2 separate regions of the Homo sapiens genome follow, and region 2 is linked to region 1. The links come from fine-mapping of genetic effects on gene expression. A gene starts in region 1. The other region holds a variant in brackets. All regions are shown on one strand. Distances are from middle to middle. Region 1 holds the start of PIK3AP1 (phosphoinositide-3-kinase adaptor protein 1). Region 2 has its middle 28 kb from the start of PIK3AP1.

Region 1 (2,904 bases):
ACCAGAGATTTTCCTTATTAAGTGTATATTACCTGCTATTACTAGGCCTCCTTATTCACAACACAGCTTCTTTTAGCCTCCAGAGCCCAGCTGGAGAGCCAGGAGGCTGTGATTAACTACCTTCCCATCCCCTTTAATGAGCCTGTAGTACATGGAACAATCACTCCTGGCCTTTTCTACCTCTGCTTCCGAAGCACCCTTACCAGACCCTCAGAGGATCTGGGGAGAGCTGGCTCTTCATTCCAGTGTTTGCTCACCTCCTGTAAGAACAGTGCCTTCTCCTGGCCACCTAGATTTTCTTTTTCAAGGGGCACCTGCAACCTGTTTTCACAGGTTATCCCTACTAAAACATCATAAAGTGGGCTGGGAAAATACAAGTAAACCCATTTGTAAACACTGTAACTCTACCTCCTCTCATCTAGTAATTCCTTGTTTACTTATTGCTTTCCTCTACAGGACCATAAACTCCTGGAGAGCAGAGACTAGGTGTTTCCTGCCCACCATGGAGAACATATTAGGTGCACAGTATCCATTGGAGTGCAATAGTAAGGACTCATTAATTGTCTCCGTTATCATCATTATGTGGCTTGTCCTGGATCTCCGTCAGTGAGCGACTTGCCAAGTGTGTACACCCATGAACCAGAAGGCAACCCAAGACCAGCCAGAAAAGACGCTTGGCACCCTTTGATGAGTACATTTACCCAGTGACCGCCAACTCTCCCCATTCCCCAAAGTTCTGCAAAGGACGCAGGAAAAGTAAAGTTCAAGGAATAGTGTTCCTAGATCCCTAGCAAAGTTCTAGACCCAAAACACAAAGCCTGGGAGGGGTGGAGGAACGGGGCTTGGGGAACTGTCCCAAGGGCCTCCCCGGCTGATCTCTCCGCACCACCTAGGACTGCCTGAGCGCCCCCTGTGGGTCCACGGAGCCCAGGAGACGCGTTTGGCCCTGTAGACCATCCACATCGCCCGCCCTCCGCTTCTCTCAACTCGCCTCTCGCTTCAGAGTCGGAGGGACAGGGGAAGCGACGCTCAGACACTCCTAGGGCCAGAGGTGGAGGGAGCGAAGGAGACCCTGAAGAAGTGGGAGGGGGTCGGGCCAGGCAGGGGCTGAAGAGAATCGCGCCACAGGCTGGGACGGGAAACGTGGGAAAGTTGGAGTGGGAAGTTTGCGACAGGGAACATAGAAAAGAGCAGAAAGAGGGCAAGATCCCCGCACAGAGGACGCAAACAGAAGCAAGCGGGGGAGCGCGCCTCAAGGGATGCGGGGTACGAGAGAGGGGCCGGGAGCCCGGGGACCCGCGGCGCCTGCCTACCCACCTGAGGCTGCCATGCCGCGGGGCGCCGCTCACATCCCTGGCTCGCTGCGTGCCCGGGGCCGGGACCGGGGCCGGCGGCGTCCTGGCTCGGGCTGGAGGGGCGCCGGGCTCCGCGCGGGACCGGCCGCCGCTCTGGCGCTTCCTCCCTCAGGGCAGCCCGGCCTCGCCACGAGGGCGTGTCCACAGAGTCCGCCCCGCCTGCGGGACTCGGCCCGCGGCACCTGCACCCGCGGCCGTTGGGGAGGGGAAGTGAGAACCCCATGCCGGCCGCCGGCCAGCTCCCCCCACGGCCCCCTGCTCAGGGGCAGCGAGAAGGCGGGGGCTTCGCGCCACGTGCGCCCCACTCCTCGGGAAACCAGCCCTGATCTGCCACCAAAGGGCAGCCCGAGGTGGAGGGGGTGTGGGGAGGAGGCGGAGGGGGAGAGTGTGGGGCTGCCAGGCCTCTGGGAGACAGGGCGGGGGTGTGTGTGTGTGTGAGCACCAGCTGTCCAAGCCACCTCCTCATCGCCTGGGGCTTTGTCCCTAAGCCCCTGCTGCCCCAGCAGGAAAGGGGAGGGGACAGGAAGGGGAAGAGGAGGAGGGCTGGGCACCTGGCCCTGGGTGCTCGGCGTTGCCCTTGAGTGCCCTCCTGTGATCTTTCTGCCGTTCCTTGGATCTGGTCTCCTGATGGCACATGAACATTAATTATAATGTCACATGATAAATGTCTAATAGAGTTTCTCTGCCATTCATTTCCTGTGTTCCTGTCTGCTGGGCGCTGCGTTTAGCACCTTACACACATTATCGCATTGCATCCTCACAGCAACCTTCTGAGGTAGCACCTATCACTGTCTTTACATTGGAGCCAAAGAAACAAGCCAAATACCTTGCTCAGGCTTCCACAGAGAACAAAAGCTCCCGGAGGTTCAGTACCAAGCCAGTCTGCTTCCAGAGCTAGAACTCTTGCTTAACCCTTGCCTTCACCTGCCCTCTTCTTGGACTCCTCCCTTTGCCTGCTGCCGAAATTCAACTGAATAGCACATCCCCTTGGAGTTCTCAACAATCCAGGGGCCAGAAGATGGACCCAGAGAGCAGAGATGAGGCAAGGTTAGGGCTGAAGTCCAGGTGGAAATAAAATGAAATGGATTTAAGAACGGGAATATCAGGATGAGGCCGTGCATTCATTTTCTTCTGTTGCCATAATAAATTACTACAAATTTAGTGGCTTAAAACAACACCAACTTATCATTTTACAGTTCTGTAGCTCAGAAGTGTGACATGAGTCTCCATCGGCTAAAATCAAGGTGGTGGCTGGGCTGGGTTTCTTTCTGCCAAATAGAAGGGAATCAATTTCCTTGGCTCTTTCAGCTTCTAGAAGCCATCCACATTCCTTGGCTCATGGCCTCCTTGTTCTATCTTCAAAGCCAGATGGCCCTGCTTCTGTCATCATATCCCTTTCTCTGACTCTCTTCTGTCTCCCTCTTCCAGTTTTAAGGATCCTAGTGGCCGGGCGCGGTGGCTCACGCCTGTAATCCCAGCACTTTGGGAGGCCGAGGCGGGCGGATCACGAGGTCAGGAGATCGAGACCATCCCAGCTAAAACGGTGAAA
Region 2 (2,904 bases), 28 kb after region 1:
CTGTAATCCCAGCACTTTGGGAGGCCAAGGCGGGCAGATCACTTAAGCCCAGAAGTTCGAGACCAGCCTGGGCAACATGGCAAAACCCCATCTCCACAAAAAATACAAAAATTGGCCTGGTGCAGTGGCTCACACCTGTAATCCCTGCACTTTGGGAGGCCAAGGCAGGTGGATCACCTGAGGTCAGAAGTTCGAGACCAGCCTGGCCAACATGATGAAACCCCATCTCTACTTAAAAAAATACAAAAATACAAAAATTAGCTGGATGTGGTGGTGGATGCCTGTAATCCCAGCTACTCAGGAGGCTGAGGCAGAATTGGTTGAACCTGGGAGGCAGAGGTTGCAGTGAGCGGAGATTGGACCACTGCACTCCAGCCTGGGCAACAAGAGCGAAATTCCATCTTTAAAAAAAAAAAATAGAAAAATTAGCTGGGTATGGTGGTACATACCTGTAGTCCTAGCTATTCGGGAGGCTGAGGTGGAAGGATTGCTTGAGCCCAGGAGGTCGAGGCTGCAGTGAGCCGTGATCACACCACTGCACTCCAGCGCAGGCAACCAAGTGAGACCCTCTCTCAAACAAAAAAAAGCAATTATGTGTGTGCGATGCATGCTTACCAGGGAGTGCTCCTGGAAGCGCTGCCTGTGGAAGGAAGGACAGAGGGAAAAGTCCAGATGCTCAGACAGCCTGGGAGGTAAATGAACCCTCAGAAAGCCATGGGCCTTTCCATCCCCACTGCTGTCAGTGGACCAGCCTGGGCTGGGCATGTCCTTGGGCATCTTTGAAGGGGATGGCAGTAAAGGGCTGTCTGCTCTCCCTGCTCCCAACTGCCCTGGTGTGCTCCTGGCCAACTTGTCTAACTGCTGAAGACCCAGGCTCTGTCGGTGAGTCTGGCTTCACTAGGCTGTGTTACTTTTAAACCAGTTTTATGTGAGTTTTTATTGTCTGGGGAGAGTCACCATTACCTTTTCTTCTTCCCCTTTTGACAGCAGAACTTCTGCTTCCTCTTTGGCTGCAACCTGAGGTAAAAGGTTATGGGAAGGGAAAGGATGAAGCCCTAGACACATTTCTCTGACAAATATCGAAAACAGAAAGCAGATAAGGATTCCCATCTGGTAAAAGACAAGCACAAAG[A/C]GTCATTCACACACGTGACAATGGGCCCATTCTAGCCACTTCCCCTTTCAATAATCTTTTAGTATTTTCCTTTGTTCAGTACTTGATGAATCAACCACCAAGGTGAGAATTTGGAGCTGTTGCCCCATGGTCTGAAAGGGTCAGATGCCACTGCCCTGCCCAGGAAATGCCCACAGACGGGGCTGCCGTAAAACTCAGCATACTCTATGGACAACCCCACCCCTCACCCCCACTTCCTTCTCTCAAACTTAGGCACCCACTCATTCATAGAAAAGCAAAGATTCGCCTGGAAAACATAGCAAGACTCTGTCTTTACAGAAAATAAAAATAAATTAGCTGGAGCCAGGCGCAGTGGCTCCCACCTGTAATTCCCGCACTTTGGGAGGCCAATGCGGGCAGATCATTTGAGGTCAGGAGTTCAAGACCAGACTGACCAATATGATGAAAACCCGTCTCTACTAAAAATACAAAAATTAGCTGGGCGTGGTGGCGCACACTTGTAATCTCAGCTACTTAGAAGGCAGAGGCATGACAATCACTTGAACCCGGGAGGCAGAGGTTGCAGTGAGCTGAGATCATACCACTGCACTCCAGCCTAGGTGACAGAGAGAGACTCTGTCTCAAATAAATAAATAAATATAAGCTGGGCATGGTGGCATTCACCTGTGGTCCCAGCTACTTGAGAGGTGGAGGCAGGAAGATGACTTGCACCTGGGAGGTTCAGGCTGCAGTGAACTCTGATCATACCACTGCACTGCAGCCTGGGTGACAGAGCAAGATGCTATCTCAGAAAAAAAAAAAAAAAAAGAAAAGAAAGAAAAAAAGAAAGGCAAAGAGAAGAAAACAAAGAAAGAAAAGATTGGGAGAGGTGGACCGGGCTCTATTCTGGGGATGATGACCTTTGTGAAAGCAGAAGTTAGGCCTTAATCCACACTACAGGTAGAGATGCAAAATGGTACAACCATTTTGAAAATTAGTTTGGTAAGTTTCTTATAAAGTTAAATAAACAACACACGAGCCAGCCAGTCCACTCCTAGATAAATGAAAACCTGTATTCACACAATGACTTATACATGAATGTTCACAGCAGCCTTATTCATAATAGCTCAGGCTGGAAACAACCCAAATGTTCATCAGATTAAAAAACTGATATATTCTTACAACAGGCTGGGTGCAGTGGCTCACGCCTGTAATCCCAACACTTTGGGAGGCCAAGGCGGGCGGATCACTTGAGATCAGGAGTTCAAGACCAGCCTGGCCAACATGGCAAAACCCCGTCTCTACTGAAAATTAGCAGGCTTGGTGGTGTGCACCTGTAATCCCAGCTACTCGGGAGGCTGAGGCATGAGAATTGCTTGAACCTGGGAGGCAGAAGCTGCAGTAAGCCAAGATTGTGTCACTGCACTCCACCTATGTAATAGAGTGAGCCTCTGTCTCAATAAATAAATAAATAAAATAAAAATTAAAAATAAAAACATTCTTACAATGGAATACTAACTAATCAGTAATAAAAAGGATGCACTATTGATGTACACAAAACATGGATGAGGCCAGGTGCAGCAGCTCATCCCTATAATCCCAGCACTTTGGGAGGCCGAGGCGGGCGAATAGCTTGAGGTCAGGAGTTCGAGACCTGCCTGGCCAACATGGACCTGGTCTCTACTAAAAATACAAAAAGTAGCCGGACGTGGTTGCAGGCACCTATAATCCCAGCTATTTGGGAGGCCGAGGCAGGAGAATCTCTTGAACCAGGGAGGCGGAGGTTGCAGTGA

What was found. PIP is the estimated chance that this variant, and not a neighbour inherited with it, causes the effect.
Region 2: its variant is fine-mapped to the expression of PIK3AP1 in whole blood (INTERVAL, PIP 0.98).

Annotation. Positions count from the first base shown.
Region 1 is chr10:96,719,065-96,721,968 of GRCh38, forward strand. It overlaps PIK3AP1 (phosphoinositide-3-kinase adaptor protein 1), which reads right to left and starts at 1,450. Exons shown (of 17, transcript NM_152309.3): 1 at 1,318-1,450. The coding sequence starts at 1,330. RefSeq lists enhancers at 972-1,081, 1,932-2,041 and silencers at 1,212-1,461, 1,512-1,811.
Region 2 is chr10:96,747,148-96,750,051 of GRCh38, forward strand. No RefSeq gene overlaps it. Among named protein-coding and RNA genes, the nearest start is that of PIK3AP1, 28 kb to the left of the region's middle. The variant A/C (reference allele first, on the strand shown) is at 1,133.